5 separate regions of the Homo sapiens genome follow, and regions 2, 3, 4 and 5 are each linked to region 1. Evidence: fine-mapped expression QTL. A gene starts in region 1. Each other region holds a variant in brackets. All regions are shown on one strand. Distances are from middle to middle.

Region 1 (6,458 bases):
ACCAAGAGTCCCGAGTTGGAAAGGAAAAGAAAGAGAGAAAGATTCCCCTGTATGTAGCAGAGAGGAAAAGAAGAAAGGAGAAAAATAAATCCCATACTTTGGGCTTCCTCCTACCTGGCTCGCCAAACCCGTAGAGGGTCTTGAGTGCAAGTTGTCCAGATTCTTGGGGTTTTGAACAAAGAATTGAACAAAACGCACTGCAAAGCAAGGAAAGCAGAGATTTATTGAAAGTGAAAGTACACTTCACAGTGTGGGAGTGAGCCCAAGCAGTAGCTCAAGAACCCCGGATACAGAATCTTCTCAGGTCCAAATACCCTCTAGAGGTTTCCCATTGGCCACCTACTTGGTGTTTGCCTCATGTAAATGAAGTGGTGGCCCGCAATCAGAGGCTAAAGTGAAGTTACAAAGTTGCACTTCCATGCAAATGAAGATTCAGCCCACAATCAGTCTGATTGGTTGCGGACAGCAAGTTGTCCAGGTTCTTGGCGTTTTGAACAAATAATTGGACAAAACGCACAGTAAAGCTAGGAAAGAATGAAGCAAGGAAAGCAGAGATTTATTGAAAGTGAAAGTACACTTCACAGTGTGGGAGCAGGCTGAGCAGCAGCTCAAGGGCCCCAGATACAGAATCTTCTCGGGTCCAAATACCCTCTAGATGTTTCCCATTGGCCACTTACTTGGTGCTCACCCCATGTAAATGAAGTGGTGGCCTGCAATCAGAGGCTAAAGTGAAGTTACAAAGTTGCACTTCTATTCAAACGAAGCCTTGGCCCACAATCAGTCTGATTGGTTGGGGACAGCAACCAATCAGAGGCTGAAGTGAAGTTACAAAGTTACACTCTATGCAAACATCTGATTAGTTGCAGAAAGCAACCAATCAGAGGCACTTTCAATTTTCCAGCTGCGGCACAGAAAAGGTGGGGGTTTGCAAAGGGAGTGGCCTCTGGGCCTTTTGTTACTTAGGAGTGGAAAGTTAGGGTTTTCCTTTCCAAATGGCTCTAGGAAGTCAGTGTGAAACGGCCTTAGGTTCCCTGCTCGCAGACCCTGTTCTCCTGCCTAACTACTAGAGTACAGTGTGCACTTCCTAAAAACGGAAGCACTTTTGCTAATAATTTTAACTTGACACAAAAGTAGGGTGATCAGATAAAATACCCTTATGTCCCATGTAATAGTTGGAATGTACTTATACTAAAAAATTATTCATTGATCATCTGAAATTAAAATTTACCTGGGTATACTGTACTTTTATTTGCTATATCCGACAATCTTATACAGAAGTCGTCATGGGAAACTCAGAAAAGGCTGTCCAAATTATTCTGGCAGAGAGGAGTGGAAGAAACAAATGCCATTTAGGTTGGGTGCAGTGGCTCACACCTGTAATCCCAGCACTTTGGGAAGGCAAGGTGGATCACGGGGTCAGGAGATGGAGACCACCCTGGCCAATATGGTGAAACCCCATCTCTACTAAAAATACAAAAATTAGCTGGGCGGGGTGGTGCGTGCCTGTAACCCCAGCTACTGGAGAGGCTGAGGCAGGAGAATTGCTTGAACCAGGGAGTCAGAGGTTGCAGTGAGCCAAGATGGCGCCACTGCACTCCAGCTTGGTGACAGAGTGAGATTCTGTTTCAAAAACAAAAGAAAAAGAAAAAAAGACACAAATGCTGTTAAAAAAAATTTAAAAGACAAAAACAAAAAACTGTGGGGCCCGGCGTGGTGGCTCACGCGTGTAATCTCGGCACTGGGGGAGACCAAGGCAGGCGGATCACCTGAGTTCAGGAGTTCGAGAACAGCCTAGCCTGGCCAACATGGTGAAACCCCATCTCTACTAAACATACAAAAATTAGCTGGGCGTGGTGGCTGGCACCTGTAATCCCAGTTACTTGGGAGGCTGAGGCACAAGAATCGCTTGAACCTGGAAGGCGGAGGTTGCAGTGAGCTGAGATCCTGCCACTGCACTCCAGCCTAGGCAACAGCGAGACTCTGTTGCATTTAAAAAAAAATTGTGGTAAAATATACATAATAGAAAACTTACCGTCTAACCATTTTTAAGTGTACACTTCTGTGACATTAGCATATTTGCATTGTTGTGCAGTCATCACCATTCATCCCAACTTTTTCACCAACCCATACTGAAACCGTATGCCATTAAACAGTAAATCCCCATCCCTCCTTCTGCAGACTCTCTCTACAACCACTGCTCTACTTTCTGTCTCTATGAATATGACAGCACCATAGTATTGGCGGTAAATCAGAGTTGGCAAATGCAATCTGAAGCAGAGGAGAGGAGAGAGTCATATCCCTCAAGTTTTACAGTCCCATTAAAAGTATTAGTACTTTGAGAAAAGGACCGTCACGATCATGGGGAGAATGAAGGAAAAACTCCATTTCTTTCCAGTTTGCAACTGGAATTGTCACTTTCGTCTTTCGGCACGACAGCGCCCAGGCCACAAAAGCCCACAGGGCAGGGCCTCCATTTTGTGGCCTGCGTGGAGGGCGGGGCGGTCTCTCTCCGCCACGCCCCAGCACCGGGTAGACACCGCAGCCACGTAACCAAGGAACCCCGAATGAGGCGTTGGCCAGGTGAGGCCGGATCCGGAAGTAGGGGGACCACTTCGCCCCGCGTACGAGCCCCGCCCCCGGCCCCTCCCACCAGACCCAGGCCGACCTAGATGACGTGTCCGAGTAGGAGTTGGCGAGGTGCGGCCGGGCGGCCGGCCCTGCGCATGCGTGATACTTGCACCGGTCGAGATGGTAGCATGAGTCTGGAGGTCATTTTCTTTGAGAAAGGCTCCGCTTCTCCGGGTTTTTGCTGATGCCGATCCCGGGGGATTGAGGAAACATTGAGCTCTGGAGTGGAAAAGGTTGCAGACTTTTAGACTCCCAAGTCGTTGTAGTCTCAATCTCTAGTGGCTGCGTTACTGCAGGAAGTCACGGAAGCCTCTCCCCTTTCTTAGGCGCATCCTTGGCTGTAAAAGGAGGTTAAAAGCCCCTGGAAAACCTCAGGTTTATTTCAGCTCTGAAAGTCCGGTTCCAAATTTAGATCCAGCACTCTTGTGGCCTGGCCAGTGATGGTCGTGGAGTGCTTTCCCCGCGCCTGCGGTCTCTAGGCTCTGTGGATGTAGAGGTGTGGGATGTAGGAGCAGGCCCTTACCCGTGGAATTCACATATAAATGGGGGAATGAGACAGCAAACAAACAAACGTGATCCTTCCTGATAGTGGTAAATGTGGGATGCCGAGGTTTAAGCAGACGAGTGGTATTAAGGGATTTCAAGGTTTTATAAAATTGATTTTGCCAAGAGTGGAAGCTGAGAGGCTACTGCAGTAAGAAGTCCAGGGGAACTAAGAATTTGGCTTGGACCAGAGTGGTAGCTGTGGGCATGGAAAGTACTGAAAGGATTTAGCCCATAGTTTAGCAGCCCAACCAACGGGACCTGCTGAAGGACTGGAGGTAGGTAGTGAGGAAATGAGAAATTTAGGTTCTTCTCCAGGGTTGGGGCCTGAAAAGAGATGGGCAGCGATGCCGTTTCCTGGAAAACTGGGAGAGGAAATGTTTGGGATGAGGGCAGTGAGATATAATGAAGGTCAAGTTTTTTTTTTGTTTTTTTTTTTTTTTTTTTGAGACGGAGTCGTGCTCAGTCGCCCAGGCTGGAGTGCAGTGGCGCGATCTCGGCTTACCGCAAGCTCCGCCTCCCGGGTTCACGCCATTCTCCTGCCTCAGCCTCCCAAGTAGCTGGGACTACAGGAGCCCGCCACCACGCTCGGCTAATTTTTTTGTATTTTTAGTAGAGACGGGGTTTCACCGTGTTAGCCAGGATGGTCTCGATCTTCTGACCTCGTGATCCGCCCATCTCGGCCTCCCAAAGTGCTGGGATTACAGGCGTGAGCCACCGCGCCGGCCGAAGGTCAAGTTTCAGTGGTGCTAGGAAAAGAAGATAGTGAGCAAAAATGTTAATTTTTGTTTCCTCCTCTTAATATTTGGAGAAAACGTCTGCTTCCTTTTGTTATATTGGAAATCTCCATGACTTCCAAATACAGAATATTTTACAATTTTTCCCTATCCCAAAGTTCAGCGAATATGTTGATTTATTTGAGGGAGAGGACATGAAAGGGAAGCCACCTAGGCACAATTTTCTGCTCAGGCCCTACCAGATTAGTTTTTGTTATCAAAAAAAAAAAAAAAAGTGCCATTCCTTGGGCCAAGCTATGTGCTCAGCACTTTCCCTCCATTTTTGATTTAATCTTCACAACAACCTTAAGATGAACGTTCTTTTCTACTTCCCAGTTCTCTTGATTAACTTGGCTACCCCACTATATGGATCAATTTGCAGGGTCCTAGGTCCCTTTGAAAATCTGATGAAAGTTATAAACCTTACCTGGGAAAAAAGTACAAACACCCGCAAGAACTTGAAATAGGAGTTCACTGGCCCTCAACTTTCTGAGCTTACTATTTCACAAACCTGCCTATTCTTGAATTCTGAGCTGGAGGTCATGATTCTCTCTTATGTACTTTAAGATGATGCACTCTTCCGAAGTTTTTGATTGAACTCTAGTGGCTAACTGAATTGACTTTTTCAGATCACTAAAAAGCTTCTCCTTGAAAAATACTCAGAAGATGCAACACACACACACACACACGTGTGTGCACTTACACACGCGGACACCGTCTCACATCATCAGTGGGAAAAGTGATAGAATCTTGCTAAAGGCTGATCATACCATATTAATCCGATTCGCCAGAACTACTTTCTTCACTGAGCTCTCAGGTATGCTCGGGTCTTCCTTTAAAGAAAATAAATGTCAACGCTACACTCTATCCTACTCCCATTTTCCTCCTCACCCCATTTCCACTCTCCCTTAAAGAGATGTGTGCACACAATCACTGCCCAATGCAAGAATGCACCACTGCATCCAATGCTTGGAAATTGTCCGTGAAGATGCCTTTGAGTAGCTGTCTATTTGAGGATTTGTGGCTAATTCCTCCCCATTTGTTTCCTTAGCCTGCTCCCAACCAGGTGTCTCCAGAACTTTTTCTCTCCGCCACCAACTCCGCCTCCAGACAGACCGCAGGTGCTTTCTGTCATAGGGACTGGCGTGCCGCGGACAGTGTGACAAAGAAACTGTATGATGGATATGAGAACTTCGTAAGACCCAGCAGCAAACGGGGAGCGGCTGGCGAGCGCTCCACAGCCCCCAAGCGTGGGAGCTCTAGATCGGAATTTGTAATTTGGAATTGGAACGTGAGCGCCGGAACAGCTCTCCCAGCAACCACCTCTCCCAGCAACCACCTCAGCTGGCGCGCGGAAAACCCGGAAAGTGGATTTCGCCCCCGCTCCCTCCCGGAAACTCCTCCTGGTGCCTGCGACCGTTCTCACTGAGCATGTGCAGACGGCGGTGCGCATGCTCTGTTGCGGTCCGCTTCGGTTTCTGTTGCGGGACCCGGGGTGTCTCCTAGCGCAACCGGAACTAGCCTTCTGGGGGCCGGCTTCCTTTATCTCTGGCGGCCTTGTAGTCGTCTCCGAGACTCCCCACCCCTCCTTCCCTCTTGACCCCCTAGGTTTGATTGCCCTTTCCCCGAAACAACTATCATGAGCGCGAGGCTGCCGGTGTTGTCTCCACCTCGGTGGCCGCGGCTGTTGCTGCTGTCGCTGCTCCTGCTGGGGGCGGTTCCTGGCCCGCGCCGGAGCGGCGCTTTCTACCTGCCCGGCCTGGCGCCCGTCAACTTCTGCGACGAAGAAAAAAAGAGCGACGAGTGCAAGGTGGGTGAGGCCTGACGAGCCCTCTGATGCACTGTTGGAAGGGGAAGTCGTCCCTATCCGGGGGAGCTGATCCTCGGGTGGGAGCGAGGGAAGGGGGCGTAGCAGCGGGTGGGGTTGAGTTTCCCCAGAAGCTTTTGGGGTCTGCTGGGCTGTGGGTGGGGGGCTCTGAAACAGCCCTTGCAAGGGTAGTTTCTGGAGGACGCAGTGGGCCTCAGACTCGCCTCCCGTCTTGCGGGCCAAGTGGCACGAGCAGCTGTATTCAGTTTTCCTGGAACAGGGACCGTGTGGAGCGCCCTTGGAGTTGGGCTTCACGCCTCAGAGCTTTGGAGTTGGATGTATGCAGGTCCACGCGTGAGTGTTCGCTCACAGCCCTGTAACATGTACGCTGAGGAAGCGGGTGACCGACTCCCTACATGTGAGCAACACTCAGCCTAGTTAACAGTTTCCATTAGCTTTTAACTTCATTGCTTCCTGTTTAATTGCATTTTCCTGGAACCTTCTAGTTGGTTAGGAGAGCTTGTTCTTTCTAGGACTTTGATATCTCGCTTCACAATTAGAAGTTGGTTCCTTATTTGTGGAGTATAACACCCAGAGCCACACAAAGTGCATTAATAAAGAGTTGCTGTAATGGTTGAGGCACTTGATTTCTGAGTTTTAAGTGTAAAAGATTTTAATACACAAAAAAAGATACGAGGTCTCAC
Region 2 (6,458 bases), 22 kb before region 1:
CATCTGAGGTCCATGCTGCTCCTCAGAATCTCAGAATTCTGTCGTGGGTGCTGCAAAAACTGACTAAGGAGGCCAAATGCACTTGGTTTACATTCTTCTCTCTAGATCTTTGGATAAAACAATTTAAAAATTTCGCCCAGTGTAACTTTGTTTATTTTTGTGAAGCAAAATCAAATAAGCCAAGTGCCATTGGAACTCCTGGCAGCTTCCTAATACTTAATACTTGATGAAAGTCCTGCAAGACAATCCAGACTTGATGAGGACGGGAAGCCGATATTTAGTCGATGATGGCATCATCACGTCGATGTTTTTTTCATTTCCTAAGGAATGCTGGCTGCACACCAAGAAATGAAAGTTGTTGGTTAATGGATGCTAATGGGAAACCTAATGAGGCAGTGGAGGCCAGCACTTTTCACGCTATGGCCCATGGCAAAGCAGAAGATTGATGGAGAGATGAGAGCACTGCCAGTTCTTCTATAAGTAAAAGAAACATCTCATCCAAAAGATGTTTCTCCAGTAATGGGGTGAAGCTCCTTTACCCACAGAAGGCTGAACCAGTATGAAACAAGGCCAGGCATCACTCAAGTTAGTCCAATAGCAAAATGCATTTACATACGTAAATAAATATATATATTACCTTTCTATACGACGACATCTCTCTTTTTTTTTTTTTGAGATGGAGTTTTGCTCTTGTTGCCTAGGCTGGAGTGCAATGGTGCGATCTTGGCTCATCGCAACCTCTGCCTCCTGGGTTCAAGCGATTCTCCTGCCTCAGCCTCCCAAGTAGCTGGGATTACAGGCATGCGCCACCATGCCCAGCTAATTTTGTATTTTTAGTAGAGATGGGGTTTCTCCATGTTTGTCAGGCTGGTATTGAACTCCCAACCTTAGGTGATCCGCCTGCCTTGGCCTCCCAAAGTGCTGGGATTGCAGGCATGGGCCACCACGCCCGGCCGATGACATCTCTTTACAAAGAAAACGTGTGTTCATTATTTCTAAAAATAGAAATATTACATAGTCAAAAGGGGGGAATCACCTTTATTCAACTATCACCTTTATTCAACTGCAAAGAAATAACCCACTGTTGGTATTTTCACGTGTGTCTTTCCATTCTTTTTTGTTTAAATATATATGTATATTTTAAAAAATCTTCCTGTGAATTTTAAGATATGTATAGATTTGTGTGGCCCCCACCAAAATCAGACTATCCAACAGTTCTATCACCCCCTCAAAATCCCCTCTTATATACCTCGATAGTCACACCTCCCTCCCTTGAATCTCTGCATCTACTGATCTGTTTTCAGTCACTGTGGTGTTAGGTTTTTGAAATGTCGTATAAATAGAGTCATAGAGAATGTAACCTCCTAAGACTCAGTGTGTATGACATTAATCCGTGGTGTTGTATGTATCAATAGTTCATTCCTTTTTATTGCTAAGTACTATTCCATTGTATGACTGTTCCCATGGTTTGTTTATTCATTTACTGGTTGAAAGGCATTTGTGTTGTTTCCAATTTTGGTGATTGTGAATAAAGCTGCTATAAGTAGTTACACACAAATTTTCGTGTGAGCATAAGCTTTCATTTCTCTAGGGTTTAAATACCTAGGAGTGGGATTAATGGGTCATATGGTAAGTGTATGTTTAACTTTGTAGGAAACTGTCAAACTTCCCGCCTAAGCAACAGAGCAAGACCCAGTCTGATATAGTTTGGATGTTGTCCCTATCCAAATCTCATGTTGAAATGTAATCCCCAGTGTTGGAGATGGGGCTTGGTGGGAGGTGATTGGATCATGGGTGCAGATTTCTCATGAATGGTTAAATATCATTCTCTTGGTACTGTCCTCGCGAGATGTGGTTGTTTAAAAGTGTGTAAAAGGAAAATATCTTGGGGCCCCAAAAATCACTAAGTTAAAAGGAAAAGTCAAGCTGGGAACTGCTTAGGGCAAACCTGTCTCCCGTTCTATTCAGTCACCCCTCTGCTCACTGAGATAAATGCATATCTGATTACCTTCTTTGGAGAGGCTAACCAGAAACCCAAAAGAATGGAACCATTTGTCTCTTATCTACCTATGACCTGGACGCCCCCTCCCCACTTTGAGTTGTCCCGTCTTTCTGGACTGAACCAACGTTCACCTTACATACGTTGATTGATGTCTCATGTCTCCCTAAAATGTATAAAAGCATACTGTGCTCTGAGCATTTTGGCCACATGTCATCAGGACCTCCTGAGGCTGTGTCACAAGTGTGTGTCCTCAATGTTGGCAAAATAAACTTTCTAATTTAACTGAGACCTGTCTCAAATTTTCTGGGTTCAAGTTTTGGTAACCATGAAGGGATTCTGAGCGGAGGTGCCCCTGACCTTTGACAAATCTATTGGTGCTTGGAACCAGCATGAGCTAATTTTATGGCTCAAGCCAATAGGACAATTTGCTGAGGTCTGGGAGAACCCCCTCCAGAGAATCCCTGATCTCCCAAAATTTGGTCAAGATCTAAAGTTTATTTTGCTGTACAACTCCCTTTTTCTTTTGAGTTTTACTTGCTTCCAACAAGGAAGGCAAGTTTTTCCTGCTTCCATGACAACGGAAGGCAGGTAACTCCTTTATGGAGTTTGAGCTCACTTCCAACAAGAAGGATGAGGGTTTTTTCCTGCTTTTAGGGTGATAGAGAGCAGTCTTCAGCCTGAGACCCATCCCTAGGTAAGTAACTGAATTGGGGTTTGTCTTGGCTAAAGTTAAGATTAACAACCAGCTTGTCTTAATTTCTCCTCACCACTAGAGCGCTCAATAGTTGTATAAGTTGTGCGATCATTTGTTTTGCTTAACTGCGTTTTTTGTTGTTGTCGTTTGTTTCTGTTCTTGTTGTTGTTTCAGTCTTTTTCCCACTGGGTTTGATCAACTCTATCCGGCTTGATCAAATCCAAAGGAAAGTTCCAAATTATGGGGAACAAGGCCTCTGAAGTGGCTAAATTCCACCCCGCCACCCCCCCCCCACACACACACAAAAGGTGGTATGGTGGGGGAGAAAAACGGCCGGAAAAGGAAACCAAAAAAAAAGAGGAAAGATTTTTCATTTTGACTACTAAGGGACTTTATTTACATAACAAGGCCACCTTTTTGCTAGC[G/C]AGGCCCAACCAAGAGAGCAATGGCTGTACTTCTGAAATAGCAGCAATTTGTCCTAGCTGAAATATGGTGATGAGATCTTAAAAGATTTTTTTTAAAGGAGCTCAATGATGAAAAGTCAGCTTAATTAAAAGCTAACATTCAAGAAGTGTGTGTGTATGTGTGCGTGTGTGTATGTATGCATGTGTGTGTGCATATGTGTATGTGTGCATGTGTGTGCATGTGTGTGTACGTGTGTGTATGTGTGTGTGCATGTGTGTGTATGTGTGCATGTGTGTGCATGTGTGCGTGTGTGTATGTGTGTGCATGTGTGCGTGTGTGCATGTGTGCGTGTGTGTATGTGTGCGTGTGTGTGTGTGTGCGTGTGTGTATGTGTGCGTGTGTGTATGTGTGCGTGTGTGTATGTGTGCGTGTGTGTATGTGTGTGCGTGTATGTGTGCGTGCGTGTGTGTATGTGTGCGTGTGTGTATGTGTGCGTGGGTGTATGTGTGCGTGTGTGTATGTGTGCGTGTGTGTATGTGTGCGTGCATGTGTGTATGTGTGCATGTGTGCGTGTGTGTGTATGTGTGCGTGTGTGTGTATGTGTGCGTGTGTGTGTACGTGTGCGTGTGTGTATGTGTGCATGTGGGTGTGTGTGTGCATGTGTGTGTATGTGTGCGTGTGTGTGTGCGTGTGTGTATGTGTGCGTGTGTGTGTATGTGTGCATGTGTGTGTGTTTGTATTTAAAAGGCCTTCATATTTTTGCTTTTGTTTTTCCCCTAGGATCTTGTCTTTTTTTTCAGCAAAAGTTTTTTTCTTCTCAGTTGACCGAATTCTGTTTTCTTCATTTACTTCTGCTGTGTCTTCTTTCTCTTGCACTCTCTGTAGCATGGGTAACCTAAAATAGTTTATAATAGCCTGGGGTTCCTTAAAGAAAACTGAGAAGGCGCCAGACTCCCTCTGAGGGAGAAACCTGTTTTTCCTTATGGAACCCCAAGAATGTAAACAGACAAGTTCATCTCAGCTCTTAAACGGCTTACTTTTGTATTGTGTTACCTGGTGTGTTTTTCAACTAAAATAGTTATTGCAACAGAGGTTACTCTCGGGTTTTTAAGGAAGAGTGTGGTTTAGACACTTAGAAATATGTTTGTTAAAAAAAAGTTTTTTTCTTTAAGTGCACTGTAAGAGCATCACATGGTCTAGCCTCATAATAATTCTCCCTTTTTGGAGACCGAGATTCAATTTCATACCTATCCCTACCAGATACTACAAAGCATCAAAATTTGGCATAGGGGTTACAAAACTATAAACCCAACCCAAAACAGAATGATCTTTGCTTGTGTAGTCTTTAATAAATAAGACATTGATATTGGTTTAATAAAAATAGCTACATCTCAAATTTAGTAAGATTACCATAACTTCTAATCTTATGGCTTTAGGTGGTCTAGTCCACAGCCAGTAAGGTTTGTTATCATCTTTGTTTCAAGCTAAAATATAAACTAAGTTCCTCCCAAAGTTAGTTTGGCCTATGCCCAGGAATGAACAAGGACACCTTGGAGGTTAAAAGCAAAATGGAGTCAGTTAGGTCAAATCTTTTCACGTCTCAGTTACAATTTTGCAATGGCGGTTCCATAGCTTTAAATGATGACTATCACAGTTTTCATAAATAATCTAGGTAAACAATTAAAATGAAATAATTAGGTAAATGTAATAGGATAAATACTTGTAGACAAACTCATAATTTAGAATCTAAAGTTATATTAAACTAAATGATAAATATTTCATTATTTGGGTATTTTCCAATAAAAATATATTTATAGGAAAACATTATTTCTAAAAAAAAAAAAAAAAATCTGTCCTTTTAAAAAAGGTGAACTTAGCTGGGCACGGTGGGTCACGCCTGTAATCCCAGTACTTTGGGAGGCCGAGGCGGGTGGATCATGAGGTCAGGAGAGCGAGACCATCCTGGCTAACACGGTGAAACCCTGTCTCTACCAAAAATACAAAAAATTAGCCGAGCATGGTGGCAGGCACCTGTAGTCCCAGCTACTCGGGAGGCTGAGGCAGGAGAGTGGCATGAACCCAGGAGGCGGAGCTCACAGTGAGCTGAGATTACGCCACTGCACTCTAGCCTGGGGGACAGAGCGAGACTCCATCTCAAAAAAAAAAAAAAAATGGTGAACAGTGGCCGGGCGCAGTGGCTCATGCCTATAATCCCAGCACTTTGGGAGGCCGAGGTGGGCAGATCAGCTGAGGTCAGGAGTTCAAGACCTGCCTGGCCAACATGGCAAAACCTTGTCTCTACCAAAAATACAAAAAATTGGCTGGGCATGGTGGCGGGTGCCTGTAATCCCAGCTACTCGGGAGGCTGAGGCAGGAGAATCACTTGAACCTGGGAGGTGGAGGTTTCAGTGAGGAGAGATTGTGCCATTACACTCCAGCCTGGGTGACAAGAGCGAAACTCTGTCTCAAAAAAAAAAACATTTGAACAATTTTTTGTCTAATTCAAAGCTTATTTAAAGGTCATGTATAAAACAAGGTAAAAGGAACCAGGAAATAAGAGAGATGTAAAGAAAGTTATAAAAATAATGAGGGTTTTTTTTGGTAAGAAACTTAAAGAGAAATAATTTCATATGAGAAAGAATCTTGTATGATAAATTTAGTCCTAGGGTAAAATGACTGGTTGTTTAAGAAGGAGGGATGTTCAGGACAAACCAGAAAGTCCAAGCATATGATGAACCATCTGTGTAAGTCACAATAAGAGGATTTATTTTTTTAAAAACCAAAAACTTTTATATGGTCAAGTTGTCGCATTATTATTAAGTTTTGGTTTGCTTAGGAAAAAACTGAGATTTAAAATTTTTTTAAATTCAGGTTATTACATCCGTGTATCTCTCTGTATGCACTTTTAAAGTACTTGTGACATTGAGTTACAGGGCTTTGACTCCTGGGTCTAAAAAGGACATCAAGTACTGCTAAATTTTAAATGCTGACAGTAATTGAAGACCCATCTTCAGGTCCAGTAGAAGATGCCAATCAAAATAAACTGCATACAGGGCCAAAACTTAAAGCTATTCAACTCCTCAAGGCCCAGGGACTATTGCGGAAGAGGTGGACGAGTGAGATTGTATGGGCCAATTTTGAGAGATAAAATATGTTCAATTTCTCTATAAATTAATCATTAATGTTAAAGGCACACTGATGCAAGACCAGCATATGGGCCCCTGTGTCAGATTAACAAGGTTTTTATGAAGCATTCACCAACTCCTTAATACAGGCCACCACACAGGCCAGTTTCTATTTTTTACTAATAAAAACATTATACTGATAAGCATACTTGGAGCTAAATTTTTTCATATA
Region 3 (6,458 bases), 69 kb after region 1:
ACAGTGGAGAGGCAGTTGGGAAAATGAAATTGGAGTGATAAAGGAAAAGACTTAGGAGGGAGGGAGGGTGGAAAGCCGAGGAAGGAGACAGTGACAAGGAAGGCCTGCCAAGTGAGGAGGGCGGTGGAGAAAAGACCCCTCTCCAGGGCTTGGATCCCGCCGTCCTGAGGGGTGCGCTGCTGCGGCTTTCCCAGAAAGTTCTCCAGGAAAGCGTCCCTCAGCATGGCAGGCGGTTAGAAGCAGGGGTCCGTCTCCTTAGCTTGAGTGTGGCCCGGGACAGAAACAGTTGCGTTGCGCATGTTGTGAGACCCCAGTGACCAGGAACCCCGGGGAGAAGTCTCCTCCATGAGTCATGATAGCCGCAGGCAGCTGCGAAGGAGGGGGACGTGTAGCCAAGACCGGGAAGCTAGGTAACTGCAGTGTTTTCCTGCTGGAGAAATGGCCTTTTGCCATTCCCATGCCTTCTATCTGCCCAGGTCATTTCTAGAGACCCAGCCGTGCCGCAGGGTCGTCCTGCTCGCCGGCTAAGGGCGGCATTCTGTCTGCATTTGCCTCCTTGCCCCGCACATCAAGAAGGCCGCCCAAGCTTTCGGGCAGCGCCGTAGCCCCTTGGTGTCTCCCACAGTTTCTCCAACTGTACCTTCACCTCGAACCTAGTTACAGCCTCACCCCGCCTTCTTCCTGTCTGTTCGAGAGTCTTTCCTCTTTATTTTCCCTTCTGTGTTTAAACCCTCCCTCTCCATGCTTTCCATTTTAAAACACGTCCAACTTTCTGCTAGTTGTTGTTTTTTTTTTTTTTTTTCATTTTTAGTGAAAACAACCCGTCTGACCGATTTCTCCCTCTTCTCCTTGCCTCTCCCACCTGGCTTTGCCATCGGCTTCTTGTTTTCCGAGGATTCTGCTGGTAACCTTGTTGCCGAGCTCCTCAGCGCCCCCACCACCTGGTCCAGCCCTAATTTTACCAGCTCTTTACTGACACGACACTCAGTCTCTCTTGGAAACCTTGTCCTGAAAGCCGTGTTCCTCATAGTCTGGGTCTGAACCTTCCTCATAGAATCGCAAGAAGATTGTCACAAACATGTGCTTGCCCTGCACGTGTTCTGGAGAAGTGCGTTAAAACAGGAGACGCTGCTTACCCACTTCTCTTCCCCTCAATTCCGCCTCTGTCAGTCTCCTCTGGGGGCTCCACTTCTGCCCCCAGCGGGAGTTGCTGCCCTATTCCATCTTTCCCTCTTTGACCTACTTCTCACTTGGTGTTCTCTGTCCAGTTTCACTCTCGTGTTTAGAGTCAGCGCCTCCATCTCCACTCACAGCACCTGCTTGCTGCACAGCCTGCGTGGTCCTCGGGAACACTAAGCTCATGGTGTACAAAAGTGAGCGCACCTGCCCTCCGTCCCCAGCTGCCGCTCCCCCAGAGGCCCCGTCTCCGGTGGGGCCGTCAGCTGCTTCATCCCCTGAGCGGAGCTTCACAGGTCCCCTGGGTGCCCCTTTCAGTCGGTCACCGAGTATCCTCCAAGTCTTCAGATCCATGGCTTCCTGCCCACCCCCTCCACCCATGGCGCCTGCGGTGACGTCCTCCTGCACCGCTGCAGCGACGCTGGCTGGTTCCCTGCTCCAGGCATGTTCCTCCGCAGGGGAACCTGCTAGAGCTGCCACAAACCACACCCCTGCGCTGTCCATCTCCCTCCGTGACCCAAGCCATCCATGCCAAACCACCTGCTCATATGATCTATCCAGGAAATTAGAAAAAGCCCTCTTGGCCGGGCACGGTGGCTCACGCCTGTAGTCCCACCACTTTGGGAGGCCGAAGCGGGTGGATCACCTGAGGTCGAGAGTTCGAGACCAGCCTGGCCAACATGGTGAAACCCTGTCTCTACTAAAAATACGAAAACTAGTTGGCCTTGGTGGCAGGTGCCTGTAATCCCGGCTACTCGGGAGGCTGAGGCAGGAGAATCACTTGAACCCAGAAAGCAGAGGTTGCAGTGAGCCAAGATCAGACCATTGCACTCCAGCCTGGGTGACAAGAGCAAAACTCCATCTCAAAAAAACAAAAAGAAAAAGCCCTCCTATAGGTGTGACGAAAGCATAAAAATCGTAACCTTAAAACTTCTTAAGACACATAGAAGTGATTAAGGGCTTCCTTAAGCAAACTATTTCAGACATTGGTCATATAAATTTGTTTTAATACACAAATTCTATTGCACATTGGAATTTGTAACAGATTTTGGTGACAAGCGAAGAAAACCTAAAAGTCTTTCAAATGCAGCTGCTTCAAAGTTCTGGACCAAGTATGAGTCTCATGTTGCCAAAAGCCTTGTTTTAGACCTGATAAAAACATCAAGACAAAGCATTTTAATATAGATCTGTTTTAGGGGTGTGTGTGTCTGTGTTTAGAAACAGGGTCTCACTCTTGCCCAGGCTGGAGTGCAGTGGTGCAATCACAGCTCACTGTAACCTCGACCTCCTGGGCTCAAAGCAGTCCTCCTGCCTCAGCCTTTCAAGTAGATGGGACTGCAGGTGCAGGCCACCACTTCTGGCTCGTTTTATTTTAATATATGTATTAGTTTGCAAGGGCTGCCATAATAAAGCACCACAGAATGGGTGCCTTAGACAACAGAAATGTATTTTCTTATGTTCTGGATGCTAGAAGTCCAAGCACAAGGTGTCCACATGTCTGGTTTTTCCTGAGGCCTCGCTCCTGGGCTTGCAGACAGCCACCTTCTCCCTGTCCTTGTGTCTTCAAATGGTCTTTTCTCCATGCATGCACATCCCTGGTGTCTCT[T/G]TGTGTGTCCAAATTTCCTCCTATGAGGACACCAGTCAGACTGATAGAGCCCACCTGTAATACATATAACCTCATTTAATCTGAGTGACCTCTTTAAAGGCCCTATCTTCAAACACAGTCACCTTCAGAAGTACTGGGAGTTAGGGCTTCAAATATGAATTTTAGGAGGAAACAATTTGGCCCATAATAATGCACTTCCTCTAAAGATGCTGTATCAAGTGAGAACAACAGGATTCTTTTTTTTACTAGAATCCTTTCGGCAGTAAAGTCAAAACCATCCACTGAACCAAGCACCACAGGGAATTCACTCTTGGATCACTGTTATGTCAGTGACCCCCGCCAGAAGGAACTCTATTGCGGGATCTGGCCAGCATCCTGCAATGCAACGGGGCTCTTTCCTTGTTCCTAGGCGGATCGGCAAGTCGAGAAATAATAGACACACACACAAGATAGTGAAAGCTGGGTCCTGGGGGGTCACTGCCTTCTGGTCCTGCGATGCCGCCAATGCACTGGATTTACCAGCATTTATTGTTAAGTTTAGTGAGGGTGGGAGTAGGTTAGTGAGGGATTTAGAGTCATTTGATTATGAAGTGAGATGGTCACATGGGGATGAAGTAATTCTTTAACATAACATCTGTATGCAGAAGTACAGTATACAGAGATAAGAATTTACAATATAGTGTGTGTGTCAGTAATTTTTAACAGAGCCTTAAAACAGAAAACACAGTCTTTCCATAACCTATGATTAGCAAGATATTAATCAGCAGTAACAGTTGCAGCAAAAGCTGGTTACAAACAATCCATAGAAACAGGCCATGAAGCTAGACAGCCAGTTAGACCAGAAATTCTCAGAAGGGAGTATGCCTTAACCCTAAAGAGGCCTAGAAGGCAAGATGAGGGCGTTTATAGCCCTGTCTTATCCATATGAACAGGCACCCCCCATGCGTCCGTTTATAGGCTCTCCACAAGGGTCACGTTCCATTCCCAGAGCTATGAACATCTGCTTTTCTGGGATAGGAATCTTGGTGATGTGAAACCTCCCTGACTGCACGTCCGTTCATAGGCTCTCTGCAGGGGGAAGCACATCACATGCTGTTGGCTCATTCTGGCAGTCCAACCTGGCATTGTCTTTACACAATCCTGCGTGCAACTTTGTATTTACAATAATCAGGAGCATTTCATCTTTTATTCCATAGCAATAGTTTCAGGGGGTCTTCCTACAGAACTCAGTGTCTAGGGTCTGGGGTGGCACTCCTCTGGCCAGGGCTCCCACACCTGACAGACAAAGCCTGGAGATTAACAAGGCTACAAGGGTATTGGCGCCATGACAAGGCCTCTGCAAGCAAATGGAGAATTATACCCCATAGAGGATAAAGGGTTTTTTCCTGGGCTTGGTTTGTGTTCTGTAATCAGATCATTGTTTTATTTGAGAAGTCTTGCTTTTGATATAACCAAAACTGCTCAGGAAAAAAAAAAAAAAAAAAAGCAGGGTTGGTGGGGTGGATGCAATGGCTCATGCCTGTAATCCTAGCACTTTGGGAGGCTGAGGTAGGAGGATTGATTGCTTGAGTCCAAGAGTTCGAGACCATCCTGGGCAACAAAATGAGACCCCCATCTCTACAAAAAAAAAAAAAAAAAATTGGCATGGTTGCACGTGCCTGTGGTCCCAGCTACACAGGAGTCTGAGACAGGAGGATCACTTGAACCCAGGAAGTTAAGGCTGCAGTGAGCCATGATTGTACCACTGTACTCCAACCTGGGCAACAGAGTGAGACCCTGCCTCCAAAAAAAAAAAAAAAAAAGCTCAGCTGTTGGGAAAGGTTTTTTAAACCTTTTAAAACCCTCAGAAAGAAAGGTCTCTCCCTATGAATAGCAGGACATTCTGGGGCTTCATTAATATGTAAATATATGTCATTAAGAAAATGTTTTTTCTGGCTGGGCACAGTGGCTCATGCCTGTAATCCTAGCACTTTGGGAGGCTGAGCTGGGTGGATCACGAGGTCAGGAGTTCAAGACCAGCCTGGCCAGTACGGTGAAACCCCATCTCTATTAAAAAGTACAAAAATTAGCTGGGTATGGTGGTGCATGCCTGTAGTCCCAGCTACTCAGGAGGCTGAGACAGGAGAATCGCTTGAACCCAGGAGGCAGAGGTTGCAGTGAGCTGAGATCGCGCCACTGCACTCCAGCCTGAGTAACGATACGAGACTCCAAGACTCCGTCTCAAAAAAAAAAAAGTTTTTTCATATTTGTATTTTGTGTTCTATAGCCCAAGTAGATGGTGACCATAATTTCTCTGCCTACAAGGTTCTATATGTAGAAAATCATGCTTTTCTTTCTCAGATATTTTGATGGAACCAAACCTGTTTCCTATGACTGATTTGTTCTCTCCTTTACTATGTAATTTGAAGTCTAAACACTAAAAATCACTGTTTCTTCACATTCTCTTGCTTTTGGAATTCCACTGGAATTTTTTTTTTTTTTTTTTTGAGATGGAGTCTCGATCTGTCGCCTGGGCTGGAGTGCAGTGGTGCGATCTCGGCTCACTGCGAGCTCCGCCTCCTGGGTTCACGCCATTCTCCTGCCTCAGCCTCCCAAGTAGCTGGGACTACAGGCGAGCGCCACCATGCCTAAATAATTTTTGTATTTTTAGTAGAGATGAGGTTTCACCATGTTAGCCAGGATGGTCCTGATCTCCTGACCTCGTGATCCACCCACCTCAGCCTCCCAAAGTGCTGGGATTACAGGCGTGAGCCACCGCACCCGGCCTCCACTGGATTTCTTCACCTCACTCTCTTGAACTTCATATACACATGCTCAAATTTGATTCTTTTTTCCCTTTTATTTTTTGACCTAATGATTATTTGACATTCTCATTAATAATGAATTCTTTGGCTGGGCACGGTGGCTTACACCCGTAATTCCAGCACTTTGGGAGGTTGAGGCGAGTGGATCACCTGAGGTCAGGAATTTGAGACCAGCCTGGCCCACATGGTGAAACCCTGTCTCTATTAAAAATACAAAAACTAGCCGGGCATGTTGGTGGGTTCCTGTAATCCCGGCTACTTGGAAGGCTGAGGAAAGAGAATCTCTTGAACCCAGGAGGCAGAGGTTGCAATGAGCCAGGATCGCGCCACTGCACTCCAGCCTGGATGACAGAGCGAAACTCCATCTCAAAAAATAAATAAATAAATAATATAATTAATTCCTTTATTTAGTGAAGAAGAAAGCATGGCTCTAAAAAGTCCTGTTAATTCCTTCGGATATTTTTAGCCAAAAGTGGTCTAGGCCACGTGAGTGGTGTTGACCATGATAAATAAATAGCACTATAATAGGTCACAGGTCATTAATTTCTCTGAAAAGAGTTAAATATGAGATATAAGTTGGAAATGATATATTTAAGGATTAGAGTCCACTTTTTAAAAGGTTTTTACTGATAGCTTACAATTAATGACATTGTATACATTCAAATTTAAATCAGGTTTTAAAAATACGCTAAATGTTTTAGGGTTAGCATTATTATCAAAGAAAATCATAGGCTGTCCAGGTCAGAGAGAACAAGGCTCCTCTGGCTCATGCTAAAGCCAGACAAATTGTGCCACAGTTGACTAGGACCATTTCATAGACAGTGGTGAACCGAGGCAGTGACTCTGTTGACTGGGAACGGCTCATAGCCCGC
Region 4 (6,458 bases), 48 kb after region 1:
TGTTAACTGAAAATTTTCAAGTAGAAAATACTTTCTAAATACAGTAATTGCTTAAAAACCAGTTTTTCTGGCCGGGCATGGTGGCTCATGCCTGTAATCCTAGCACTTTGGGAGGCCAAGGCGGGTGGATGACAAGGTCAGGAGTTTGAGACCAGACTGGCCAATATAGTGAAACCCCGTCTTTCTACTAAAAATACAAAAACTGGGCATGGTGGCAGGTGCCTGTAATCCCAGCTACTTGTGGGGCTGAGGCAGTAGCTTGAACCTGGGAGGCGGAGGTTGTAGTGAACTGAGATTGCGCCACTGCACTCCAGCCTGGGTGACAGTGCAAGACTCCATCTCAAAAAAAAAAACAAAAAACACCACAGTTTTTCTAAGTGGGTAGGTAAGCCAGATTATTTCTGAGCATCCTTTAGGTTCTCAAAATCTAAGTGACTTGGGGCAGGTTTAGTTGCACCCAAAGACTGACTCTTGGTTTCTCCCTTCAGCTCTTCCTAGACCAAGCCTTTGTCAGGGAGGCACTGGGCTGGAGATGAACAGGTCCTTAAGACCATCAGCATCTGAGTCTAAACAGCCCAGAACTGGGACCATTTAGGGTCTCTTTTACCCAGGCATCGTGGGCAGGCACAGTCTGGTTAGGGTTCCAGGATATTCTTGGCTTCCACGGAGGGAGGAGGGTGGGAAAAGAAGGGATGGGGCAGGAAGCACTGTGTAGATCCTTCTCATCTGGGGAGGATTTGGGAAGCAGGATCTCTCTCCTCTAGGGAAAGCGAGTGTGTAGGAAAGACCTTCCTTCCTCCATAAAAAGATTCTCTTCTTTGAGCTACCTCAGCGACTTCAGAAATTGTATTTAAATTTTTGCCAACTAGGACAATTTTTTTTTTTAAATAAATGTTCCTTAGAGGTATTGATAGCCACAGGGATTGTTCTGAAACTACCTCTGGGTATATGTTAATTCCACTGTCTTCCAGTTTCCTTAATTGGAAGATAAAAAAGGTTTATGAATAGAATTTTCTAAATTTTACCTTTATTTAATGTATTTTACTTTATTGATGCCTGCTACTGATAAATAGCAACAAATGAATATACTGGGAGAATTCAGAAACTAACCTTTAATAATTTTTTAGTAAACATTTATTTTTTATGTTTGATTACATATTAAATACATAATACCACAGTTATTTTTGTTAGTAAAGTTGTTCCAAATTTTTATGATAAAATTAATTATATAAATGCTTTGCAAAGAGCAGTATCATTTTCAAATGTCTGGCACTGAATAAGTTTGGGAACCAAACTCACACCTTCAGGTTCAGTTTGAAGACTGACTAGGATATCTTTTTTTTTTAATCTACTAACAACTTAAGGAGATACAATTTTGATAGGTAGAGCTAGAATTTGTAACTATATCATACTAAAGAGAAGTTAAGTCATACTAAAGAGAATAGGTCAGGAAAAGGTGTCATAAAAAAGGTTTGGACAGAGGGTGGTAGGGTGAAGGCACTGGGTGACAGAGAGCCAAACTAGACTTAGAGCAGAATGAATGTTTGAAGATAAACTTCTGCTTTCTTTCTTTCTTTTTTTTTTTGAGACGGAGCCTCGCTCTGTCACCAGGCTGGAGTTCAGTGGCGTGATCTTGGCTTACTGAAACCTCCACCTCCTAGGTCCAAGTGATTCTTCTGCCTCAGCCTCCTGAGTAGCTGGGATTACAGGCGCCTGCCACCACGCCTGGCTGATTTTTGTATTTTTGGTAGAGACACGGTTTCACCATGTTGTCCAGGATGGTCTCAATCTCTCAACCTCGTGATCCGCCCGCCTCGGCCTCCCAAAGTGCTGGGGTTACAGGCGTGAGCTACCACACCCAGCCAACTCCTGCTTTCAAATCTTATTAGGAGCTGTCTTCTGCGATGCTCTGGTTTTTATTGCGGTCAGCTAGAAAAGTGAACTTTTAAGGAAGGAAAGTTTCAGAGAGTCTAGGATAGAATACGATGGGAATAATTTTCCTTAAGTCCTCAAATAGGAACTTTCTGCCGAAGGGCAGTCCATTTTTCAGGTCGAGGAGGAGAAAGGGGTTGCATTTTAGCTGAAATCTTGTACATCTTCTAAAGCTACCCTGATGTGTTTCCTGCTCATCATGACTCTGGTGCTTGTCAGAGGTGTGTGCGCGTGCTTGCTCACATACGTGCTTGGTCATGCACGTTTTAGGGGAAACAATAGGGGGGGAAACAATGGGGATTTTCTTGCTGAGCCTCCTGAAACTCAGTTCTCAGCAGTATCCTACTCACCTTGGGATTCTGAGCACCTTATAACTTCTGAGCCCCAGCTTAAAGCTGGGAATTTCTATGAATATAATATAGCATTTTAATTCTCATTAGTAGGAAGGCTTACATAGGGAAGAGCAAACAAAGCTAACCACGTGAATAAGGTAGGGCCAGGGTTTCCCCGTATTGCTGACAAGGTCCTTCCGTAATTTGTGAAAAGCTAATGGCCGTATGAAATCTTTCTCCCTCATTTTGTTCTTTCATTAGATTATATATGTCTCTTCTGTTTGAATGTTGTAAGGTTTTGGGTTTTTTTTTTTTTACCCCCAGAGGACCCCCATATTTTTTAATGAAAGAACAGTGGGAATATTTTGTAGTGGAAACATTTTCACTTATGTCAATTTTAAAGGCTGTACTTGAATCTCAGAAGAGTCAAATGCACTCTTGAGCATCCAGTCAGCCTCCCCTGATCACAGGAAGGATGTGATCTCTCATTCTGGACTCTGAGAAGAAACTTCCAAAGTGAAGTTTGCCTCATGTATGATCAGATTGGTGCAGTACAGTAAATATTACTAAGATTGTGTAGAGCTGCATGGTAGGAGAGCACATGGTTTTGCGTGAAGTTGTATTTTTTTCTTGTTTGAAAAATGAGAGGGTTTCTCTATCATTTCACAGCAAAGGAAACAGAGTAATAACATGTACAGCCTTTCA[C/T]GATTTGTGTTTTAGTTTTCGCTTGCCTGGGATTTTTGTCACCTGCCAACCGAGGAGCGCTGATGACGTGTGCTGTGGTCCTGTGGGTGCTGCTGGGCACCCCTGCAGGCTATGTTGCTGCCAGATTCTATAAGTGTAAGTCAAAGCCACTGTGACTGGCGTCTGATCAGGAAGGGACTCTGCTGCGGCTGTGGATCTGACCTGGGTATCAGATGGTGATGCTTTGTAAATAGTGTGCCTCATAGGGGTCTGTTCTTAGTTAAAAGGAGCCTGCTTGGTGATTCCTTTTGTGTCATGAGTTACTATCCCAAAATTTATTTGTTCGAAAATGTTTAGTGAAACAAGCAAATTGTGCCACTTATCCACTATCCCCTCCCTCTTTTTTTCTTTAAGCTTTGGCTAACAGGTTGGGCTGAACAGCTTAGATTTGCTGTGTTCATAGAAGCACATATAGACTAATAAAGGAGAAAAGTATACAAATGAGTATCACTGATTTTTTTCACTAAAACAACTAGTACATCTAGGTGTACCTTTTCTTACATATGAGAAGTCATACTTACATTGTATCAATTTAATATTTATAAAAATACACTGTTTCAAGTAAACAAAGATCTCATTATTTTGGAGACCTGGAAAGTTACTTTTGTAATATCATTAGTCACAATCTCTTGTGTTCTTGCATTCTAGAAGTAAAATAAAGTTCAGTGAAACAAAAGGCTCACGGCCACAGAGTAAGGCTGAGATGGGACTGGATGGCTTAGAAAGCAGCTGGCAGGGTCAGCAGGGACCAGAGCTGGCCTCCTCGGGAATGCCACAGTCTCGTCTGGGATATACAGTGATTCCCCACGGTCTAGCAATGTGAAAAAGTTTTGAGGTGAAGCACAGTAGAGTTACGTGGACAACCTTAATGTGGGGTTGGGTAGTCTCAGCCCCCAGTAAAAGATTAACTTAGACCTTGTCAGACACAGTTCTCTCTTGAGTATGTGAAGCCCTGTATGTATGTGTGTTTTAAGTGTGTTTTAATTTCTGTGAATTTTGTCAAGTTCTTTCTTCCCCTTTACTAAAGGAGGTAGGATTAGGGCCATCATACGGATTTTAATGCATACAAAATACAGTCAGCCCTTTGCCTGCCACACCAGCCTTACTTCATGCCACACTCCCCCTTTCTCACCATTTCAGCCACACAGGCTTTCTGTCGGTTCCTCGGACAGGCTGCCTGCTTTCCCACACCCTGCTCCCATCTGCACTCCACTCACTAATGCCTCCCCATCCTTCAGGTCTCCCAGCTGCAGATCCTGTATTACTTGAATTTTGACTGAAATTATAGTAAACCCAGAATTAATCATTTCATAACAGTCTGTTTATCAGAAACATTGTGAGTTCAAATCATGATACATATATATGATCTTATGTGTATATGTAATTTTATTATTTTCTTTTAGGGCAAGTGGCACTTAAACTTGCCTATCAACTATGTTAAAACTTTTTTAAAAATCACAGCTGTTCTGAGATCTCAGCCAGTTTCATTTCTGACTTAAACTGGGAGCAGACGTGTACTTTCATTTTTCACTCTAGCTACTTCAGTATTTGAATTCTTTAAACTGGAAAAAAAAGCAAGTTGGAGAGGGGCAAAGGAGAGTAAAACATATATTAGCAAACATGGTCTGTCAAATGGTCATAACCCTTCTACTCTTCTTAGTTGCCTCATCTGACACACGCACCTCCTAGGAACCACAGTTCCTCCTAGAAACCACAGTGCTAGAGGAAGAGTTGGCCTACTGTGGAAGTGTAAATGTGTTGCACATCAGGCTTGACGGTTCCCAGTTTTATAACAAATTCTGAAACTGACTGCAAGATAAGTGAGAATCCCGTGTGCCCTTCCTGTGCCTAGGCCCATTGATTGATACTGGCTCAGGATTTAAGGATTCTTTTGGTTGTGAGGGGAAAAGAAGAACTGATCTTGATGACTTGCCTCTGATTCTCTAGAGCAGGACTTACCTAGGGAATCCCATCCTGTATGTCTCAGATTTGGATTATTTAATAAAGGAATATCATATTATATTTGCTAGTACCATTTTCTAGGAATGAGTACTCATTGCTGTCTGACAGTTTGGCAAATATCAGACTTGTAATATGGATATTTGGTTTGCTTTAAAGAAAATCTGTATTTATACAACTTTTGTTTTCTTCTATAGCCTTTGGAGGTGAGAAGTGGAAAACAAATGTTTTATTAACATCATTTCTTTGTCCTGGGTAAGTGAATTTTTCAAGAATTACTTTCTTAACATAGTTACATGTTAGTCCCCAAATTTTCAGTCGTTGAGTCTTTAATCCTCCGTGTCTCTAAATCATGTACCTAAGAAAGTAAATTTAATTTTTGAAAAGGGGTAAAATAAATATTTTATAAACGTTTGCCAAATGATTACCACATGTCTTATCTGGGGAAAGTACCTTTAGACATGAGAAATGTTTTAATTCCTTCTCTTCAAAGTCTTTCTGTTTCTTGGTTTTTAGTGGTCAGTCTGACATGTTGTTCTGTAGGCTGCATTTAAAGCTTTTGAGCCAGGCACAGGAAGGAATCCTGAAGATAGTTCAGGCAAGCATATGTTTTCCCATTTTTATCCAAAGCATTGCCATTTTTTAGAGTTTATTCCATTAAGTAAAGTAATATACACCAAAAATAAAAAATAAGCAGCCACCACAAATCCAAAACAAAACAAAAATCCTTCACTCTCTGGAACTGCTTCTCCTCTCGATTATCTGATGCGGTTCTGGTCCTAGAAGCAAAACCCACTTCCTCCCAAACCTGCACATTTCTGGTGGGCAAGAACTGACACGTGAACAGGCTACAGCAATAAAGAAAGCCAAGGATGATGAAGTCTAGAAACCAGAACTGTTCCATTTGCAGGCTAGAAATGCAAGCGTGATGGCAGCAGCATTTTAATACACATTTGGGATAAATATTCTCTCTATCACCTCCACCGAAGATTCACATTCTTCTCAGTTATCGGTTCTATTCAAATTTCTATGCTTTTCTCAAGCCATGTCCTTTGTTTTCTTTCCCTCTGTCAACTCACGAAGGTGTCCGTCCTTACCAAGACTGTGATTTCCTGCAGAATCTCCGAATCTTGCTTTTCAGGCACCTCTCCCTCTAGTCTCACACATCTTCCATTGCTCCCTTCTCACATGTTCTGCTTATGTGGTTCTTTTATTCCTCCAAATAGGCTCATGTCTCCCCTAAAAAGGGATCATAAACATCTTCCCTTCTTATTTCCATCTCATTTCTTTTCTATTCCCAACAAAATGCCTTGAAAAAAATAGTCTCTACTCCTTTCTTCTCATTTTCTCAGTAAACATTTGCAGTGTAAAGCCACGTCATTCGTATTTTTCTCCATCATTTTACTGAAACTTTTAAGTTTGCCAATAATGTTCCCATTTTCAAATCCAGAAACGATTTTCTCTGTATTGTCTAACATTGGAATACCTTCT
Region 5 (6,458 bases), 30 kb before region 1:
AGCCCAGTGCCCACCTGGCTCTCTAAGCTGTGTTTACATGCCACCATCTGGTGCCCTCTGTAATTACTACAGCTGCTTATTAGAGCAGCCTCCACAGTGTAGAATACAGCATACAAAATATTTTGAATGTCACCTTGCCTTTCTTTTGCTTTTTGCATCAACTACAACAGAATTAAGGCAAAATCAACTAAGCGTTTTCTAAAATCTCCCCAGAAATTAAATGTTTTTCTTTTAAAAAAAATTTTAAATTGTTTTATATGTTGTTCAAGCTAGTCTTTTTTTAAAAAAACTTTTATTTTAGGTTCAAGGGTCCATGTGCAAGTTTGTTATATAGGTAAATTCCATGTCATGGGGTTTTGGTGTACAGATTATTTTGTCACTCAAGTAATAAATAAGCCTAGTACCCAATAGGTAGGGTTTTGGGGTTTGTGTGTGTTTGTTGGTTTTTTTTTTTGGTTTTTTGTTTGTTTGTTTGTTTGTTTGTTTGAGATGGAATCTTGCTCTGTTGCCCAGGCTGGAGTGCAGTGGCGCATTCTCGGCTCACTGAAAACTCCACCTCCCAGGTTCAAGCGATTCTCCTACCTCAACCTCCCAAATAGCTGGGATTACAGGCATGCGCCACCATGCCCAGCTAATTTTTGTATTTTTAGTAGAGACAGGGTTTCATCATGTTGGCCAAGCTGGTCTTGAACTCCTGACCTCAGGTGATCTGCCTGCCTCTGCCTCCCAAAGTGCTGCGATTACAGGCGTGAGCCACTGCGCCTGGCCCTCAATAGGTAGTTTTTTGATCCTCACCCTCCCCCAACCCTCCACCCTCAAGTAGGCCCGAGTGTCTGTCTTTCCCTTCTTTGTGTCCGTATCTACTCACTCTTTAGCTCCCCCTTATAAGTGAGAACATATGGCATTTGGTTTTCTGCTCCTATGTTAGTTCGCATAGGATGATAGCCTCCAGCTCCGTCTGTGCTTCTGCAAAGGACATGATCTCATTCTTTTTCATGTCTGTGTAGTATTCCATGGTGTACAGGCACCACATTTTCTTTATCCAGTCTACTGCTGATGGGAACAGGCTAGTCTTGAACACAGGCTGTAGCTATCTTCCCTCCTCAGCCTCCCAAAGTGCTGGGATTACAGGCGTGAGCCACCACACCTGGCCTTTTTCATTTTTAGCTATTGTTTTAGAGACTTTGTTTGTACATATCCATAATTATTACACAGTTGTAATCACGGAAAAGTTTATTTTTTAAATCTTGCTTCTTTCATGGAACATTATGACATAAGTATTTTCTCAAATTGTTACAGATTTCAAAATTATTATTTTAATAATTTATCAGATCCCACTTGGAAGGGATCTCATAAATCAGAGATCTGATCCCATACATTTCCCCAGCAGGTATTAGCTAGCCAAAGTTCTCCTGATGGGCCAAATTCATAGTCCTGAAGAAGAAATCCCTGTAGAACGTCACAAGCAGCCATAATTACAATGTTGCCAAGACACCTGGTTCTTTGCTTCTACATTGTTTGTTTTACTGCCCTTTTCTTGGGGAAGCTCAATGCCTGCGTTACTTTGAAGCTTTTGGTAGAGGTACTAAGCCTTCAACTAAAGCAAGGCAACTAGAACAAGCTGTTAGTTTTGAAAACACAGCCTGTCCACTAGGTTCCAGAATGAGGCCACTAATTTCTCAGAAACATCACTTCATGATCTCAAGGAGACTAATTTGTTGATTTATGAGAACATTTTTAAAAATCGGGTCACCCTTTCCCATGCCCTAAATCAATTGTCACTACACTTTGCCATGTCTTTTTTCAAGTCAGGAAAGTAATAAAGAAAAATAAGAGAACGCTTGAAAACACTTGATATTCAGCACACTTTCCTGTGGCTAAGGTTTTAGATTTTTTTTTTTTTTTTTGGTAGAACATAATATTATCCCATGCTTAGCTTGCTAAAGGCAATTTAGCAGCAGGATTTACCTAACAGAACAGTTTTGGCTTTATCTAATTTTAGGTAATTACCTCTCTTTTCAAAGCTCATTTCTCTTGTGCTTTTGCTGGTCTTGATGTGTCACACAACAGCATTCACCCCCAGGATCTACTGCTCTTAAAGCAATAGAAAGAACAGCTCAATTTCCTTTATCAAATATCAAGCATGAAATATAGGTCCACGTGTAAAATAAGGAATTTGATACCAGTCATAAAAATCTACCCACAAACAGGTGGAGAATAAAAAAAAAAAGCAAAATGCCTAGATCAATAAAATATTTCATAAACCCAAGCAAACACTAACATTACTGAGAGCTGGATATCTAATCTGAGTCATTACCCAAATAGGGCGACTCAAGCTATGTTCACCCAATCCTGGATATTTTCATTCGAAAGGCAAGGCTTTCCTGGAACAAGGTTTGCTAATGCCTTAATAAAGTTAGTCACTGCAAACAGAGGGAACTCAGCTAGCTCCACAGCAACCGCTCATATATATATATATGATAAACATGTTTTTCCTTATAGAGCTTTTTTCAATCTTTGAGCATGTTTTAAAATGCTTTATTTCAGGGTGGGTGAGGTGGCTCACGCCTGTAATCCCAGCACTTTGGGAGGCCGAGGTGGGCAGATCATGAGGTCAAGAGATCGAAACCATCCTGGTCAACATGGTGAAACCCCGTCTCTACTAAAAACACAAAAATTAGCTGGGCGTGGTGGCACACGCCTGTAGTCCCAGCTACTCAGGAGGCTGAGGCAGGACAATTGCTTGAACCCGGGAGGCAGAGGTTGCAGTGAGCTGAGATCGTGCCGCTGCACTCCAGCCTGGCGACAGAAGGAGACTCCATCTCCAATAAATAAATAAATAAACAAATAAATAAAAATGCTTTATCTCAAGTAAAGGGGTACATTTGCAAAGATTCCCTGCAGGGAAAAGGGGGAAAATATCACTTTTTTCAGGACTTCCTTTGTGCCAAGTATTGAGATGGTATCTTTGCAGTGCTGTCTCACAGAAATTGGCCAAAGCAAAAACAAACAAAAAAAGAAATTGGCCAAACCACACCTGAAAACTGTTCCCAGGGGCTCCACAGCACTCGGCCAAGATGCCCTTATAGTCTCTTGGCCAAGGAGAGAGCACATGACCTTAAATAAATCAATCATCCTCTCTCCCTGGAACTTGACTCTTGAGTAGAGTGTCAAAAAGACTGGAAGTGATGG[A/C]AAGTAATTTGTCCCCATGGCAATATCCTGAAGAGATTCTCCATTAGATCTATGAAGTAGCTCTGATTCCTCTAAGTATTTTCTTATCTTTTAACTCTTTGAATGACCCCCATCCTTCCAATGTATTTTTTCCTCCTTAAGTTAATTAGGGTCGGTTTCTGTTGCTTGCAATCGAAGATCCCTACTTGCTACCTCTATCACTCTGTCTCTGACATCTCCACTCCCTGGGGCTGCCCACCACATAATTCCAAAAGGCACCATTCACATTGCACTGCATGGAGTTGTGAATGGTCTCCTTGGCATTGTGCAAGTCATGGCTCTGTTGCAACAGTCTATTCTAGACACTCCTGCCAGGGGCTGTCTTTCTAAAGAACACATATCAATCTGTCATTTCTTTCCTTGAAAACCTTCAGTGGCGCTCCATTACAATAAATACTAAGATCCAAAAGGGCTTCAAGACACTGCATCTGCCTCCCGCTGGTTTTCTCAGCATCACCATTCACTACATGCCCCTCCCTTTCACACCATCTGGCTCCCAAGGCCAGGCCAATTAAACAAGCCATTCTACACCCTGCATTCTTCATCTTCTGTGCCTGATCCAGCACAGGAATCTCTTCCCTTTTTTCTCTCAGTACCTCATCGGTCAACATTCTAACCACCTTCAGAGACCTGCTAACATCCTACTCACTGACTTCCTAGACCTACCTGGTCAAATGACTATATTTCTTTATCTTGCAGTTGACCAGTTGTACTTTGTTTGTGCCCCTAATTATTGCACTTCCATTGCTTGTCTCTAATGAGAGTCTTGATCAAAAGTCTTTTCTTGGCTGAGTGTGGTGGCTCATATAAGCCTATAATCCCAGTGCTTTGGGGTGGCAAAGTGGGAGGATCCCTTGAAGCCAGGAGTTCAAGACCAGACTAGGCAACATAGTGAGAGCCCGCTGGGCACAGTGGCATGCACTTGTAGTCCCAGCTACTTGGGAGGCTGAACTGGGAGGATTGCTTGAGCCCAGGAGGTCAAGGCTACAATGAGCTGTGATGGTGTCACTTCACCCCAGCCCGGATAATAGAGCAAGATCCTGTCTCAAAAAAACCAGACCAAAACCTTCTTCTCCCCTATTTTATTGCAAACTCCCAGAGGACAACAACTACACTACCGGCCTGGCATCTCCCACAGCTCCCTAGCAGAGCACCTCACTCGGTTCATGTTTTCTATTCAACAGAATGGAAACCTTTACAATTCTCTTCAGGGAGCTGGAAAGAGTTAATATCGGGAATCCTAGGAAAGTAATTTTTATGAACTAGGCTTGTTCTCTTATGTCCCCCACCATATAATTCTCTCTCTCAAGCTCTGTGTCCTCAATGCCACTGGGGGCTCTGAGTCCCTATCCAGCTTTATGATGACAATGCAACTTACAAGAAACAGTCTTTACAGTCCTTTTTTTTTTTTTTTAAGACAGCATCTCACTCTGTCGCCCAGGCTGGAGTGTGCTTTGGGGCGATCTCAGCTCACTGCAACCTCTGCCTCCTGGGTTCAATCGATTCTCCTGCCTCAGCCTCCCATGTAGCTGGGATTACAGGCACGTGCTACCACGCCTGGCTAATTTTTTTGTATTTTTAGTAGAGACGGGGTTTCACCATGTTGGCCAGGCTGGTCTCAAACTCCTGACCTTAAGTGATCTGCCTGCCTTGGCCTCTCAAGTGCTGGGGTTACAGGCGTGAGCCACCGTGCCCGGCCAAGAAACAGTCTTGATCTTCAGGTAAATTTCCTTCACTTTATTACCAGAGAGAACTATGCAAAACACCTGAAAGAGTGAGTGAATTCAATGAATAAATGTGTTAAGGAAAGAAAATTTTCTCAAAAACAGATGCTTTTCTTCAAATGTCAAATGACCCATCATCATTCTTGGAACTTTATTTTCTGAGAGACACCGAGTATGCACGTCATTTTAATAATGTCTTGGACAGTAATATATTAAATTTTAGGGCTGGGCATGGTGGCTCATGCTTGTAATCCCAGCACTTTGGGAGGCCGATGTGGATGGATCACGAGGTCAGGAGTTCGAGAACAGCCTGACTAACAGGGTGAAACCTCGTCTCTACTAAAAATACAAAAAATTAGCCGGGCATGGTGGTGGTGCGCACCTGTAATCCCAGCTACTCAGGAGGCTGAGGCAGGAGAATTGCTTGAACCCAGGAGGCAGAGGTTGCAGTGAGCTGAGATAATGCCACTGCACTCCAGTCTGAGCGACACAGCAAGACTCCGTCTCAAGAAAAAAATATATATATATATATTAAATTTTAATAAAGGGGGAAAATACAATTATGTATACAAAAGAGGGTCATATGAAATATTATATTACTTTTTTTATTAAAATATGTCACATTGTACCCAGCATAAAAACAATAGTAGAATTTAAGGGCATCATCAGGGAGTTCAAATTTCTCAGTTGGAAATCTTGCACAGTTAGAAGTGGGTTATATTTAAGAACAATGGCATTTTATTTTAGTAACTTGTTCCCTTCCTGGTAGAACATTCATCCCTGTTACTTTTGTGAATTTCTATTGCTTTTAGCCTAATATAGTGACTCATTTTCCTGCACTGAATCACTGACTGTAATTTCCTAATAAAAGATCATTGCATTATCTGGCATGGCCTCTTTGAAACGTCCTCATTCTGGATTCTCCAAAAAAAGGAAAGAAGGAAGGAGAGAAGGAAGGAAGGAGAGTAGGAAGGAAGGAAAAAATACAGGAAAGAGGGAAGGAAGAGGGAGGAAGGAAGAGAAGGAAAGAGAAAGGAAGAAAGAAGGGAAGGAAGGTAGGAAGAAGAGAAGGAAGAAGGAGGAAGTGAAGGAAGGAGAATGGAAGGAAGGAAGGAGATGGAAGGAAGGAAGAAAGGAAGGAAGGGGAAATAAGAAAGGAAGGAAGGAAAGAAGGAAGGAAGGGAGGGAGGAGAGGGAAGGAAGGAAGGGAGGGAGGAGAGGGAAGGAAGGAAGGAAGGAAGGAAGGAAGGAAGGAAGGAAGGGAGGGAAGGAAGGAGGGAAAAGCCACTATCTTCCTTTGAGCTGGCACACAGCTTGAGTGATGCTCTTTCTCTAAGGCCTTATACAGCCCCTGAAGCTCCTTTATGTGAAATCTCCACCCTCCTATGGTGGGGATGGTTCTGAGTCTGTCCCCTACCGTGGCCAGCTGCTTGATTTCCTGTCTTCATAAACTGCCCTCCACAGGCGCCCTCCCAATCTCCTCTCTTCTCCTTTGCCTAGTGC

Which allele goes with the higher level. Alleles are on the strand shown, and positions count from the first base shown. SD is a standard deviation of normalised expression in the study named. Not every link is listed here.
With allele T in place of C in region 4, the expression in caudate of the gene that starts at base 3,286 in region 1 is lower (small effect, 0.26 SD a copy in GTEx).

The links.
Region 2: its variant is fine-mapped to the expression of LINC01232 in whole blood (TOPMed, PIP above 0.99).
Region 3: its variant is fine-mapped to the expression of LINC01232 in whole blood (TOPMed, PIP 0.93).
Region 4: its variant is fine-mapped to the expression of LINC01232 in caudate (GTEx, PIP above 0.99). The same link has a PIP of 0.9 or more in cerebral cortex, hippocampus, hypothalamus, nucleus accumbens, prefrontal cortex and putamen.
Region 5: its variant is fine-mapped to the expression of LINC01232 in whole blood (TOPMed, PIP 0.99).

What each region holds. Positions count from the first base shown.
Region 1 is chr13:99,496,021-99,502,478 of GRCh38, forward strand. It overlaps LINC01232 (long intergenic non-protein coding RNA 1232), which reads right to left and starts at 3,286. Exons shown (of 5, transcript NR_110731.1): 1 at 2,666-3,286; 2 at 1,229-1,316; 3 at 355-524; 4 at 115-197. It overlaps TM9SF2 (transmembrane 9 superfamily member 2), which reads left to right and starts at 5,452. Exons shown (of 17, transcript NM_004800.3): 1 at 5,452-5,757. The coding sequence starts at 5,587. It overlaps LINC00449 (long intergenic non-protein coding RNA 449), which reads right to left and starts at 5,043. Exons shown (of 2, transcript NR_133664.1): 1 at 4,375-5,043; 2 at 3,703-3,920. RefSeq lists enhancers at 439-568, 2,540-2,749, 2,760-2,879, 5,158-5,337, 5,244-5,832.
Region 2 is chr13:99,473,602-99,480,059 of GRCh38, forward strand. No RefSeq gene overlaps it. Among named protein-coding and RNA genes, the nearest start is that of LINC01232, 22 kb to the right of the region's middle. The variant G/C (reference allele first, on the strand shown) is at 3,122.
Region 3 is chr13:99,565,381-99,571,838 of GRCh38, forward strand. No RefSeq gene overlaps it. Among named protein-coding and RNA genes, the nearest start is that of LINC01039, 8.5 kb to the right of the region's middle. RefSeq lists an enhancer at 1,463-1,962. The variant T/G (reference allele first, on the strand shown) is at 2,783.
Region 4 is chr13:99,544,001-99,550,458 of GRCh38, forward strand. TM9SF2 (transmembrane 9 superfamily member 2) reads left to right here. Exons shown (of 17, transcript NM_004800.3): 11 at 2,985-3,104; 12 at 5,165-5,222. Among named protein-coding and RNA genes, the nearest start is that of LINC01039, 30 kb to the right of the region's middle. RefSeq lists enhancers at 2,278-2,427, 4,375-4,424. The variant C/T (reference allele first, on the strand shown) is at 2,970.
Region 5 is chr13:99,465,633-99,472,090 of GRCh38, forward strand. No RefSeq gene overlaps it. Among named protein-coding and RNA genes, the nearest start is that of LINC01232, 30 kb to the right of the region's middle. The variant A/C (reference allele first, on the strand shown) is at 3,193.